Linked DNA regions of Homo sapiens. The protein of the gene in region 1 purifies or fractionates together with the protein of each later gene. This does not show direct contact. Each region holds a gene or a part of one and is shown in the gene's direction. Other genes may lie near its edges.

Region 1 (3,500 bases):
TGCGAAAGAATTCTAAAATGACTCTAAATTAATTTAACCCAGTCTACATATAAAGTCTTTGCATTTCATGTTCACTAGAATCAACATATCGTTTAAATGGCATTGCATATTTTTGCAAATAACCAACTTTAGACACATAGCTTATTATAGTGGAAATCACACTGACGTGTACTGTAATCTGAACCAGCGAGCTCACTTTGTTCCCAGTGAATCGCTTTGCCTTCTTGTCAAAGAGAGGGTTGGACTCAATATCACCTTGGAGATCCTATCCAGCTCTAACACTTATAATCCTGGGAAAACTTGAAGGTAGGAACACTGAATATTTAACAAAATCAGAACTTTCCAAAATGTTATTTTAATTATAAAGAGTTATGAGATTTTTAACTTGGTGGGGGGAATGTATTTTGAAAGAAACAGAAGGATTTCATTAAATTAAGGATGTAAGCCCATACTTGATCATCTTTCTTCTGCCCCTTTTTTTGTTTTTATTGTTCTAACAAAGACAACAAAACATGCTTTTACTGTCTCACTGAAGAACTTACAATGGATCTAGTTGAGATTCCTAGGTTCTGTTTCATGTACAAGCCGTGACGCAGGTTTGGAGAGGGGTGAACAGATGAGCATCTGGCTGGTTACTCCATGGTCAGGTTTTGTTTGGTGGTTGTTTTTAACCATGAGCCACATTAATAAATACATTATACATTCTGCACACACAAAACATAAAATTTAAACATTTTATGAAACAGTATGTCCTTGTTAACAAGTACAGGTTGCAATTCATCAATTTGAATTTATGATTCTCTTAGGTATAATGGCCTGCAGTTAGAAAAATACTGCTCTAGATCCCATATCTTTTCTGTATTTAGCCTTTAACCTATGTTTTCTTTATTTTAATCTTCAACTTTTGGTTTGATCAGAACCCAAATTAGAGAAATGTTTCTCTTGAGGAAGCACTGGCTTTGTAACCTAACCATACAGCCGGAGCCCATCATGTGCCCCTGATTTTGCGAAATTCCAACTGTGGAACCCAATAGATGTCAATACTTTTTTAAAAACTATCAATGTCATATATGGTCTTTGCTGTTATTTTCAGATTTGGTAGTATGGAGGTACTTTGGAAGCTTTTTACCAGTAACTACAATATGTTCCATTTAAGTTTAAACAAAAGCCAAACCCCTATTTAATTGAAAAGAAAAATACTATGGGAAAACTAAGGTGAACATTTCCTGATTACTCAGCTACATGTTACATGGTCATCTCTGCTGTTTTCAGATTTGGCAGTGTGGAGGAACTTTGGAAATTGTTACATGCTCACATGTTGGACATGTGTTTCGGAAAGCTACACCTTACACGTTTCCAGGAGGCACAGGGCAGATTATCAATAAAAATAACAGACGACTTGCAGAAGTGTGGATGGATGAATTCAAGAATTTCTTCTATATAATTTCTCCAGGTTAGCGTTGTTTTGCATTAGAAATACAAGGCTGTACCTTTGTTGACCCTGATCCTGGAGGAGAAGTAAGAAGGTTAGAAGTGAAGCTTTGAGCAGAGGTGAACACCTGCCTCATAAGGTCATTGTAAGGAATGAATGAAATCACACACAGTATAGAAAGTGCTTGGCAGAATGCCTAGAATAATATATAATTAACAGTAATAAATTATCCAGGTCAGTGTTGCTAGCCCAGGTTTTGCAGATGTTCTATTTTTTTTAAAACCTAACTGCAACATTTAGTATTTATTCCTGTGAAGTTTCATCTTGTTAAATTTTCAGCCATTTTTCTAGCTTATATGACTTTTTCTTGATTCTTGGAGTTTTCATTCAACATAACAAAACCACTGTTTTTGCAGTGGGTCATGAACGTTCTCTATAAGCAGGCCCTCAATGCTGTCATAGGAGGCTTTCGTCAAGTATCACAAGGCCACTGAGAGCCCAAAACGTGCCACAGGGCCTTCTTTCCGGAAACTTTGCTATTCAGAGTTTTGTAGGAACAGTTGTTCCATCAGCTATAAGTCGGCCTGACATTGTTACTAGTCCATCCTTATTTTTTAGTTACTGCAAGACTGTCAAGTGGCAGGGTGCACAGTTCAGTGAGTTGTGTGAGAGAAGCCTGACTGCAAACAATTGCTCTGTTTAATATTTGAGCAAAATAGACCTTGATTTTTTTGTTTGTGCCTTAACATATATTGAAGTTTACTGATCCCATATCACTTATATTTCATTCTCACATAAATGTCATTTTTCTCTGAAAAATTAAAACACATTTTAATGTATTTTCCTTGCTTTATACTTTTGGTGGATTCATGGTGTCTCCACTTGTATAGTCACATATCACCCAGCTGATACCACTGTTCTGATTCATCTGGCTTATTAGATTCAATATATAAACATGTGTTACCTAAAACAACACTAATAATTCAGAGTCAATTATTTCTTTCAACAGGTGTTACAAAGGTAGATTATGGAGATATATCGTCAAGAGTTGGTCTAAGACACAAACTACAATGCAAACCTTTTTCCTGGTACCTAGAGAATATATATCCTGATTCTCAAATTCCACGTCACTATTTCTCATTGGGAGAGGTAAGAAATATATATATATATATTCTATGTGGTTATTATGTTCTTACTTTTTTATTAAAAAAAAATAGGAGTTAGTTAAACTTCCAATAAGGAAAGTACCTTCATGTTAACATTTAACTTCTCTTGCTTCCTTCCTCCTTCTTACCACGTAAGTCTAAACTATATTCTTTTTTTCCCATTCCTCCTCCCTGAAAGTTGATTTCCACTGAGTTGATGCGCCTGGAGATAAGCTGTGTACTGTGGGGTCTGTTTTTCCCTATTCTGTCTATAGTGATGTGTTTCCTAAACAGACTGCACCATCTGCAATTGTGGATCTGTAAAATCTGTATATATATTAAAAAAAAAAAGACTTCTTTGCAGGTCTTTGTGAACTTGTAATTATAAGATGGCTTTTAGAAAAAAATATGAAGCCAAGTAGGGAAAGAAATCCAACCTTTTTGTGATAGAAATCAATAGAAGGACAATATTTCCTTTTATAAGTCACAGCAGCAAATGATGATATGTGTAGACAGGGCCACAAGCAGGCCTACCCCAGGATTAAATCTCAGGAAAAGTGGCCTCCCACTCTGAAGAAGGTTGTCACTTCTTCAGTCCTTTCATTCATTCAACAAATATTTGAGTACCTCTAGTATATGACAAGTACTGTTTTAAGTACTAGGAATACAGCAATAAGTAAAGCAGAGATCCTGCTCTTGTTGATCTTACAGTCCATGAGTAAGACAGATTATGAAAGGCACACAATATGTCAGGTGGTGGTAAGGGCAGAAGGGATAGAGAATGACTGACAAGTGAGCGTGGGTAGTAGTACTGTTTTATGTAAGGAAGTTGAAAGAGTACGGAAGTTGAAAGAGTCCTGTCAAGGTGATTTTGAGCAGAGATCTGAAGAAAGTGAATGAGCAGGTCATACGAGTTTTTAGGG
Region 2 (3,500 bases), on another chromosome or scaffold:
CTTCCCTTATGAAGCTAAGCGTTGCAGTGTGCTAAATCCTTAACTGGAACTGGAGGTGTGAATTCTAGTTGTGGCCCTACCACTTGCTGACTTGGGAGACCTTGGGAAAATCTTCCCTTCCTGGTGCTTCAATTTCCTGTTTGTAAAATGAAGAAGTTGGACAAGATGATATCCAAACATTCTTCTAACTTTCACCTTCTGTGATTGTCTGTGTGGGTTTGTATTTTATAAGCACTCTGAAGAGCTCAGTCTGAAATGCCCATTTGCCAGTGCAAAAGAATATAAAATATAAGATGTTCTGTTCATCAGGGACTTCAGCAAGGGCTAGTAATTCATGTTTCACTGCAAATCAATGACTAATCTCAAATATATGTTTTATTTATTAATCATTAGAATAATCTGTAACTTCAGTGAAGGCAAGGACTGTGTCCTCTCATTCATTGTGTATCTCTGGCACCTGGCACATAGAAACACCTTTATGAATTTTGTCAAATGAATGAATGTGATCTGTAAGGACCATGACCTGCGTCAGAATTTCACTGTTATAAACTAGGTGCAATTACTTACACCTCTAGTCCCAGTTACTTGGGAAGCTGAGTTGGGAGGATTGCTTGAGCCCAGGAGTTCAAGCCTGCAGTGTGCTATGATCACCCCTGTGAATAGCCACTGCATTCTAGCTAGCCTGGGCAATCTAGTGAGATCCCATCTCTTAAAAAAAAATTCACTGTTAGGCAGGTTCACTGTGAGTAGAAAAAATATTGTTTAAAAAAATCTAGTTTAGGCCAAGGGTGGTGGCTCACTCCTGTGATCCTAGCACTTTGGGAGGCCAAGGCTGGTGGATCACTTGAGGCCAGGAAGACCAGCCTGGGCAACATGGCAAAAACCCATCTCTACAGAAAACACAAAAACAGCTGCATGCACCTATAGTCCTCAGGAGGCTGAGGTGGGAGGATTGCTTGAGCCCAGGAGGTTGAAGCTGTGGTGAGCCGAAATTTCAGCACTACACTCCAGCCTTGTTGACAGAGTGAGACCCTGTCTTTAAAAAAAAAAATGCAGTTTATGTATGGAAAGCAATTTAATATAGTTGAATGAGGTTATCTATACTCTAAGAGATGAGAAACTTTGTTTTCATCTCAACTTAGCTATATCTCTTTTTTTTTGTTTTTTTGAGATGGAGTCTCACTCTTTTGCCCAGGCCGGACTGCAGTGGCGCTGTCTCGGCTCACTGCAAGCTCCGCCTCCCGGATTCACGCCATTCTCCTGCCTCAGCCTCCCGAGTAGCTGGGACTACAGGCACCCGCCACCGTGCCCAACTAATTTTTTTTTTTTGTATTTTTAGTAGAGACGGGATTTCACCGTATTAGCCAGGATGGTCTCGATCTCCTGACCTTGTGATCCGCCCGCCTCGGCCTCCCAAAGTGCTGGGATTACAGGCGTGAGCCACTGCGCCCAGCCAGCTACATCTCTTTATGTGACCTTGGGCAAGATCTTTAATATCCCTGGACCTTTTTTCATGATAGGTTAAGTAATGGGGCCGGAGTAGGTGTCCATTATAGATCCTTTCAGTTCTTAGATTCTATGATATGATATTTTAAGAACCTACTCTTTGGGGTGATAGGAACAATCCTTTATAAGTGAAGATGATCCTACTCATCTATGCTAATAGAAGTACCTGGCTGGGGTTAAGCACAAATTTAGATTCTAGTGTGATTTAGCTTAGAGTGCTAAAAATTGTTGCCCTTCTTTTCACCCACATATTTTAAGCTTGGCATGCCCTCCCTACATCTGGATTTTTACATATTTCGTGAATTTTCTTCACCTTATATTCCTTGCTTTGTATATCTCCTTCACTAAGAGTTTCAAATTTGCTTCTGTAAGCTATTTTGCAACTGTACACTAATCTCTCCTATCTTAGAACTTAGTGCCTCTGTTATTTTTATATTCGGGGTCTTGAGGAACCATGTGAAACTCGAACACTGGAATTAGAGCACAATTACCCTGTGAAGTTGAATCTTGTGTACAGCCAACATTTCTTAAATCCCTTCTTGATTTTATACATTTTGCTGAATTACATTTTAGGTAAGTTTGGCCGCACTATTTAAATGTCTTTGTCTTTGATATAAGAGGCAGTAAGGAATTGTGAATATAGCAACATTATCCTTGAATGAATTTCACAGTATTTCATTTTATCCTTCTAAGTAGAATAAAAGTAATAGTCTTAAAGAAAAGACAGGAAAAATGTTAACTTTGGTTTTTTTTTTTTTTTTTTCTGAGATGGAGTCTTGCTCTGTCCCCCAGGCTGGAGTGCAGTGGCACGATGTCGGCTCACTGCAACCTCCACCTCCCAGGTTCAAGCGATTCTCCTGCCTCAGCCTCCCACGTAGCTGGGATTACAGGCGCCCGCCATCATGCCCGATAATTTTTGTATTTTTAGTAGAGACAGGGTTTCACCTTGTTGGCCATGCTGGTCTCAAACTCCTGACCCCAAGTGAGCCACCTGTTTCAGCCTCCCAAAGTGCTGGGATTACAGGCATGAGCCACCGTACCTGGCCAAGGTATAGAAAGCCTTTTAGTCAAATCATTCTTTGGTTTGGTGAGAGATATAAAGGTATACATACTGTCATTAGTGTACTGCCTAAAAATAATATTGATTCTTTTCCTCTCCAGAGGCTGGAAGTCATCCACAACAAACACAAAAATTGGAAGAAATTAAAGAGAATGCACAGGACACCATGAGACAGATTAATAAAAAGGGTTTTTGGAGCTATGGTGAGAACAAACCTGGTTTTACTGCAGTGTTGATTCACTTTCAGAAATCCTCAGTGAAAATGCCTAGAAAACTAGCAGATTTAAACAGTTTTAACATTGTGTTTATATATACTTATTTAATGATTGGTAGTGAGACATAGTAAAATAGTACACTAGAGTTTTAGGGATTTTTCCCTTACGGGTGCTGGCTGATATTTTGCTGTGCTTAACAAAATGGAATTTCTCACAATAGGAAAGGCTTTTCCTAAACAAGAAACAAAAACTGCCTTTCTAATTAGAGAATATTAATTTTTCAAGTGCACTTTAAAGTTATGACTCCTAAAAAAATGGTCGGCTATAGGTAGTAGGTGCATTGAGAAGATGAAAAAAAATCTTGATCACTCATGTCTAAATTACATCATTAGTTATAATAACAAATACATAGACTCAGCTTTTACCTTTTATTTTTAAAAATTTTTTACCGAGTACTTAACTCTTCCACGTAGCTTTTATCTTTTAACAGATATATCTTCAAATAATTAAATCTGAGAAGAGATTAGAGAAAAGGTACTTCTGGTGGATTGAAAGTTTAAACAATTTATGCAAAAGAAACTTATTGCTCCTAGTAAAACCTGCTGGTATCTCTGCCTCATTTCAGTTTACCACAGGCTTTGTTTCTGGCTCGTGTTCTCTGTAATTTTCTATTCCTTTTTCATTCTTTTGACAGGCCCTGTGATTCTTGTCGTCCTGGT
Region 3 (3,500 bases), on another chromosome or scaffold:
CTGCTCCGTGGAATGAATGAATGAACAGCCTGGTAGGGTTGGGAGGACACAGAAGCAGTGACAACACAGAATGTGACAGGGAAGGCCAGGGGCCTGGGGTTGCCCGGCGCTGGGTGGGGAGGGGAGTCAGGGAAGCCTTCCTGGAGGTGGTGCCCATGTTGCTGACTTTGGACCTCTGTGAGATCAGCACTGAATGAGCTGAGAGAGGAGTAGCTCCTCTCCAAAGGTAGCTGGCAAGGAGGAGAGCTTGGGCAGACCCCAGGACCAGTGGACTCCACAGGCCTCTCACTTCCCACCAACCCACACCATCTCTCCATCTGTGACATTCTGCTTTCAGGGCATGAGGAAGGCGGAAAGGCAGGTGGGGAGGAAGTGTGGGCTGCTGGTCTGACAGGCTCAGCTCTTCCCAGGCTTGTGACCAAATCTCCTGCAGAAAAGGATAAACAGGCCTGCTTTGAGTTCTTTTATCTTCTTGCTCCCAAGGCACACCAGCAAGCAGAGGGGGTCTTCCAGCGTTAATCCTGCAGCTGTTTAGCTTTTGAACGAGTGGACTCTTTAAAAAAAATGCCACGAAGAATGTCTCACTCTCTCACCCAGGAGGCTCAAAGAGAAACTTCTCTCCCACTGACAAGGGAGCTGGAACCCCCAAGTGTCTTAAAGAAGCTCACCCCAGGGGCAGTCTGAAATCAGGGGACCCCTCATGCTGCCTCGATTTGTTGCTGGCTGTGGGGCCTTGAGGACACCCTTATATTTTGCTTGGCTTCTGCCCATTTTGTAAAATGGGGTCAGGGTAATAAATCCCTTCTTTCCTTAGAAAGGCGTGTGGCAGGAGAGTTTCAGAGGTGGGAAGGGCAGCAGTGGGCATCCAAGCCCATGGCTTTCAAACTTTGTTTCACATTAGAATCATCTGGGAAACTTTTAAAAGTCCTGCAGGCCCCACAATCTCTGGGGCATGACCCAGGCATCAGTAGTTGATGAAGCTCCCCTGGTGATTTCAGTTTGAGAGCCACCTGGCTGCCCTCTGCAGCCTACCTCCCACAGTGTCCCAAGACAATACTTGCACATCCCCAGGACAAGGAGCTCATTCCTTCCGAGGCTGCTTCCTCCCCCCAGGACCTTCCTGCCTGGAGAGATGAGGGGAGTGGGAAGACTTGGTAATCCAGTTAACCTGGGTTCCAGCATGCAGCTGCTCCCTGCGTGTCTTCTCGGAGCCTCAGTTTCCTCATCTGAAAAATGACAATAACGATCTCTCTGAAAGGGCCACAGAGGCCAGACGAGGCCACACATGGCAAGCACCCACCCCATACCTGACGCCGGGCTGGACTGAGACCCTGAACTCCCTGCCCCAGCCACCTGAGGCCAGGTCTCTGAGACTGGCGCTGGTTAGGGTGGGATCAACACCCAGCCCGGGGGCCCTTCCCACTGTCCCCTTTCTCTCTAAGAGATAAGACAAGGCAGTAAGCATTTTGTTTTGCTCAGTTTTGCTTTAATGGTCAAAGTGTCAGACTCTCCTTAACAATGAAGCCTTGTCTGAATCTGCTTGTTTTTCCAACCCGGACACCCAACTGCACCACCTGCTTGGGGCCCCTGTCCCACCTGGGAGAACTGAAGAATGTCAGAGGATTTTTTTTTTTAATCTAGGGGAGGGTGTCCAGGGAACATTGGAGGCCTCTGTGCAAATCCTCACCGATAATTGACCCCACTTAAGTCATCCAACTCTGCTGTGATTGTGAGCCAGTTCACTAAAATTATTTCAAGGTAGTTACTAGGTGTTGAGCTAAACCCCTATCAGTGCCAGTGAGGATGGCACCAGGCTCAAGAGGCCAAAGAGGAGACCCAGAGCCAGCGAATGAGCCATGGGGTTTTACTACGGGCTCACACACAGGGGAGAGAGTCCAGTGGCTGCTGGCTGGACCGAAGAACCACAACCACTCGCAGGAAGTGTGCAGTTTTTTTGTTTTTGGTTTTGGTTTTGGTTTTTTTTTTTGAGACAGAGTTTCGTTCTTATTGCCCAGGCTGGAGTGCAATGGCGCGATCTTCACTCACTGCAGCCTCCGCCTCCCAGGTTCAAGCGATTCTCCTGCCTCAGCCTCCCAAGTAGCTGGGATTACAGGCAAGTGCCACCACACGCAGCTAATTTTGTATTTTTAGTAGAGATGGAGTTTCGCTATGTTGGTTAGGCTGGTCTCAAACTCCTGACTTCAGGTGATCCGCCTGCCTCAGCCTCCCAAAGTGCTGGGATTATAGCTGTGAGCTACCGCCCCCCAGCCTAAAAGCTTGCAATTTCTATAGCATTTTCACTTAGCACCTCCCCCAACAACTTCCACCTAGCAACCTCCATTTACCCCAAACCACAGACCTCAATCCTCTGTTTGGCCCGCAAGTTCCATAGGATGGGCCAAGAGCTCAGATGTTCCTCATAGATAAGGAGTGGATCTCCGGGTTGGCTACTCCCAGATTCCTTAGCTTAGAACCAAACTGCATTGAGGTGCGCCTGCCATACAAGGTCATTCTCAGGGCTTGCTCAAGTCCAGGTATCACTGTCCAACGTGTCTACCATACAGAAGACAGAAAACTTATGTTGATCCTGGCTTTGTCACTTACTGGCAGGATGACCCTGGAAGAATCATTTTATCTCTTTGAGCACGAGTTGTTTCTCCTATAAAATGCATTTGTAGGAAGGACTTCCTGGGATTACCTGAGAAGCAAATAAAATTACTGGTATGTGGAGCACAGTGCCTACCGTAAACTAAGCACTCAAGAGCTGTTGGTGCATGCACTTGCTGGGGAGCTGACCCCTGCCTCCTGCCCCTTCCTTCACTGGCTGGTCCACGCTCCCTGTCTCCCAGTCTGCTCCCCTTGCCCCACCAGGCCCAGGCTGAGACAGAGGACAGAGGAGGCCTGCACATGTAATCATGGGCATCCCTTCAAACTGCTCTTCTTTAAGACCAGAGGAGGCTCTGAGGACTGGACAGAGGAAGACTACAAAAGGGGCCATCAGTGGCAGTGCTTGGTCTCCTTGCCTGGGCACAGCCAGAGAGGGTACATCAACCCAGAGTGACTGGCTCAGGCATTAGGCGTGTGACAAATCAACACGGGATAGTGCAGCACCGAGGGACTAGCAGTGGCTGGGAGCAGTTACCACTCAGGGCTGAAGGAGCAAGGGAAGTGGGCAGCTATAGGGATAGGGGCTGTGGGCCATCAGTACAGGGACCCAGTCAACCCAGGAGACCTCACAGGGGATAAACTTCAACTATCTTTCCTCTTTCCTTCAGTCCCCCATTTATGCTTCCTGTTGGGTGTACCTCTCTGAAAGCCAGCAGCATGGAGCCCATTACATTCCACAGAGGTCAGTTCCCAGGGCCCCAAACAAGGTAGAGAGTGGCTCTGGAGAAGCAAACCAAAGACACTTCCTCACTCTGTCCATCAAAAGCCCGGGAGTCCACTGAATACACTGTCCTTAGGACACAGTTTAAAGATCATCTGTTTTTACCATACCC
Region 4 (3,500 bases), on another chromosome or scaffold:
GTGGGATTTTCTTCAAACTACTGCTGGAATGTGGGAATGTAAGAAGTATAATAGATGTGATTTAGCAAGCAAATTGATCTTAGAGCAGGGAGATTGAGAGGAAAAAATGTGAAGAAGAGAAGAGAGTTGTGCCCAGATATCACTCAGGTGATATTTAGTATGTCTTAATAAGAAGTAAGAATGTAGAGATACAATCCAGCCTTTTAACCAGTTGTAGAAAGTTAAACCTGGCTATTGTCTGTGTGTGAATGTCTTCCTGCTAAGACTCCTGGAACCTTTCTTAGTGAGGTTTCCTAATGGTCCTAAGGCAGTGGTTTTCAGAACCCCTAACTTAAACATTATTGAGTATCCAAAGAGAAAAAAAAAAGGCTAAATAGAAGACAGGTGGGTTTTCATATCTGTTTCTGCAGTTTATTGTGATATATTGTTTTGGTTGAATTGTATGAAGGATTAATTAATAAATTAAAAGGTTAATTGCAGTGTGGAATCTGAAAGCTTAGGAGTGACCTTTTTGTACTTTGTTACCTTAAAACTCATTGGCCTATTCTACACTTTGAATGGATCATCTACCCATGTGTGATATTTTCATATCACAAATTGACGGTTTGGAAGATATTGCTTCACTGAGTAATGTATATCTTCTAAATGTTAATACATTTTGTTATATACTATCAAACAAATTACATTAATACCAACACTGATCTCATCAGAAAAATCTTTACATATTAGGAACTTGTCAAGCTTATGGTAGCAGGCACAAGTTTTAAAACAATTTAATGGCGGGGAGCGGTGCCTCAAGCATGTAATCCCAGCACTTTGGGAGGCCGAGGCCGGCGGATCACGAGGTCAGACAATTGAGATCATCCTGGCCAACATGGTGAAACCCTGTCTCTACTAAAAATACAAAAAATTAGCTGGGTATGGTGGCACGCGCATGTAGTCCCAGCTACTTGGGAGGCTGAGGCAGGGGAATCGCTTGAACCCGGGAGGCAGAGGTTGCAGTGAGCTGAGATTGCCCCACTGCACTCCAGCCTGGTGACAGAGTGAGACTCCGTGTCAAAAAAAAAAAAAAAAAAAAAAACCCAAAAACAATTTAATGTTTGCTTGAAAGCTCAAATTTTTATCATTGGCAAAAAATACTATAAGTTGTTTTCTATGAAGTGATAGGTTTACTTCATACATTTTTGAGAAAATATCTGTGTAATACCTAAGTACTAGTTATGTACTATCCTTGGGAGAATTGAGAAAACAGTCATTGAAAACATTTTTTGTTTTGTGTTTCAGCTATTTTAATGCCTTTTGCAGATGTGTTTTAGATGCATTTTATTTTTTTTTTTTGTTATGGCACATTAGAATTTTTATTTTTTCTTAATAACACTGGATTTCTTATGACTTATTTTTTGTCAAATGTAGTCATCCCTGTTCTGATTTCATTTTATTTTATTAAATTTTTTTTTTTTTTGAGAAGGAGTCTCACTCTGTCGCCCAGGCTAGAGTGCAGTGGCATGATCTCGGCTCACTGCAACCTCCACCTCCCGGGTTCAAGTGATTCTCCTGCCTTAGCCTCCTGAGTAGCTGGGATTACAGGCACTCACCACCAGCTCAGCTAATTTTTGTATTTTTGGTAGAGATGGGGTTTCACCATGTTGGCCAGGCTGGTCTTGAACTCCTACCTCAAGCGATCCGCTGGCCTCAGCCTCCCAAAGTGCTAGGATTACAGGCGTGAGCCACTGTGCCTGGCCTTAAAATTTTTTTTATTTTTAATTTTTGTGGGTACATAGTAGGCGTGTACATGCTTCTTAAATTATAGGAGCAATTAAGTAGTAAACACAATTTTATTTGCCTTATGTTCTGTATAATAAATGTGGAAGAGGTTTGCATAGTCTTAGAATTTATATTCACATCAGTAACATGGAAGCTGTTGCTAAAAACTGGATTTCTAATCTCCCCCTCACCCCCACGTCCTGGTTGTTTTTTCTTTATTGCCACCTATGTTACGGTGGAGTTTGACATCTTCTAACTCTCCTCTGAATATCCCACACCTTTGTTTTATCATTATCTTTCAACACTTTTCCTTGAAAGCTCATACCACCCTTCTCAAAGCTGCCTTCTATATTTACCTTCAAAATAGTTTTGTTTTTTTTTTTGAGATGGAGTCTTGTTCTGTCGCCCAGGCTGGAGTGCAGTGGTGCAATCTCAGCTCACCACAACCTCTGCCCCCCCAGTTCAAGCGATTCTCCTGCCTCAGCCTCCTGAGTAGCTGGGATTACAGGTGCATGCCACCCTGCCCAGCTAATTTTTTTGTGTGTTTTTAGTAGAGACGGGGTTTTGCCATGTTGACCAGGCTGGTCTTGAACTCCTGATCTCAGGTGATCCACCTGCCTCAGCCTCCCAAAGTGCTGGGATTACAGGCTTGAGCCACTGCACCCGGCCCAAAATAGTCTTTTCTAAACAAGTTTAGTCTTGGGATTTCTCTTTACCCTTTATGCACCTTTGAAAAACCACAATCTTTTTTGATTAGCGTAAGATTTTCTAGCTGTCTCCAAGATTCTGGCACAATTGGAGGAAATACAGTGTTTTCTTTAATTTTTATTTTCTTATTTAAAGAAGAGAAAGTTCTTAACTGCTTGGAATGCTTAGATTTGTTAAGCTTCACTTTCTGCCATTTGTTTTATGAAAATTTATTTGAAAGATTTTCTAAAATTAAAATTGTTATATCTAACTTTTTCCCCCCAAATAATATCTCTTCTTTCTTCACTTAAATTTTAGAATCAGCTTCTTGTCCCACTATTGCTCTTAGCAACTTTAAACATCCATGTTGGGTTTTCCAGGCACCCTAGGTTCACAGTTCACTTCTTTCAACTTGACGTCCTTCCTGTCTGCTGCATAACACTTGAATGTCTTTGTCCTCCCACACCTTTAAATTCTTCAGCTTCCTTCCATGACTAACTACTGTTGCAGTTTGAGAGCATGAGATAGAGCTGTTGCCTACGTAGGAAAGCCGGCATCCTACCTAGGCATTTAGACAGTAAAAATGGAGCTGTCTTTTGATACTGGTCCCTCCCCAGAGTGCATCCTCTTCCCTTGGTTAGTAAACTTAAATTATTATACTGAAATTTTATATCTCAAATTGGAGTTTAAAATGCTCTCATAATTTGGAATGTTCAAAATATTCTGAAGTAAGTTTCTGCAAAAGAGTCTAAATGATATATAAATTGGGGGAACAGCACTTATCAAGCATTTTATTTATTGTGCCACAAATAGCCTGTACTTGCACAATAAGAAAATTACCTGTCCAAAGCAGAAGTGTCCAGTTTTAGGAAAATCTTTTTGTTACATACCATTAAACATTCTCTTCTGTAAAGTTTAGTGGAAACTTGTTATTTTTCAGATAGAAACCATGTGAGTTTTAGAACTTTATAATTTTGAAATCTGTTTATATGAATTCTTATAATTTTCAAAACTGATATGGAAAACATAGGATCTAGGTTTTCCCCCTA

Evidence for each region.
Region 2: the proteins of GALNT1 (region 1) and TOR1AIP2 purify together in Homo sapiens (co-immunoprecipitation; one large-scale study listed by IntAct). This does not show direct contact.
Region 3: the proteins of GALNT1 (region 1) and GDPD5 purify together in Homo sapiens (co-immunoprecipitation; one large-scale study listed by IntAct). This does not show direct contact.
Region 4: the proteins of GALNT1 (region 1) and SEC23A purify together in Homo sapiens (pull-down; one study listed by IntAct). This does not show direct contact.

The regions. Positions count from the first base shown.
Region 1 is NC_000018.10:35,689,740-35,693,239, forward strand, and holds part of GALNT1 (polypeptide N-acetylgalactosaminyltransferase 1), read left to right. Parts: intron 1-336; exon of another isoform or gene 337-1,272; coding exon 1,273-1,453; exon of another isoform or gene 1,454-1,507; intron 1,508-2,441; coding exon 2,442-2,581; intron 2,582-3,500. UniProt on the Homo sapiens protein: Catalyzes the initial reaction in O-linked oligosaccharide biosynthesis, the transfer of an N-acetyl-D-galactosamine residue to a serine or threonine residue on the protein receptor.
Region 2 is NC_000001.11:179,846,804-179,850,303, reverse strand, and holds part of TOR1AIP2 (torsin-1A-interacting protein 2), read left to right. Parts: intron 1-1,429; exon of another isoform or gene 1,430-2,079; intron 2,080-2,667; coding exon 2,668-2,769; intron 2,770-3,475; coding exon 3,476-3,500. UniProt on the Homo sapiens protein: Required for endoplasmic reticulum integrity. Regulates the distribution of TOR1A between the endoplasmic reticulum and the nuclear envelope as well as induces TOR1A, TOR1B and TOR3A ATPase activity.
Region 3 is NC_000011.10:75,515,942-75,519,441, reverse strand, and holds part of GDPD5 (glycerophosphodiester phosphodiesterase domain-containing protein 5), read left to right. Parts: exon of another isoform or gene 1-427; intron 428-1,168; exon of another isoform or gene 1,169-1,226; intron 1,227-2,015; exon of another isoform or gene 2,016-3,500. UniProt on the Homo sapiens protein: Glycerophosphodiester phosphodiesterase that promotes neurite formation and drives spinal motor neuron differentiation.
Region 4 is NC_000014.9:39,096,736-39,100,235, reverse strand, and holds part of SEC23A (protein transport protein Sec23A), read left to right. Parts: intron 1-3,500.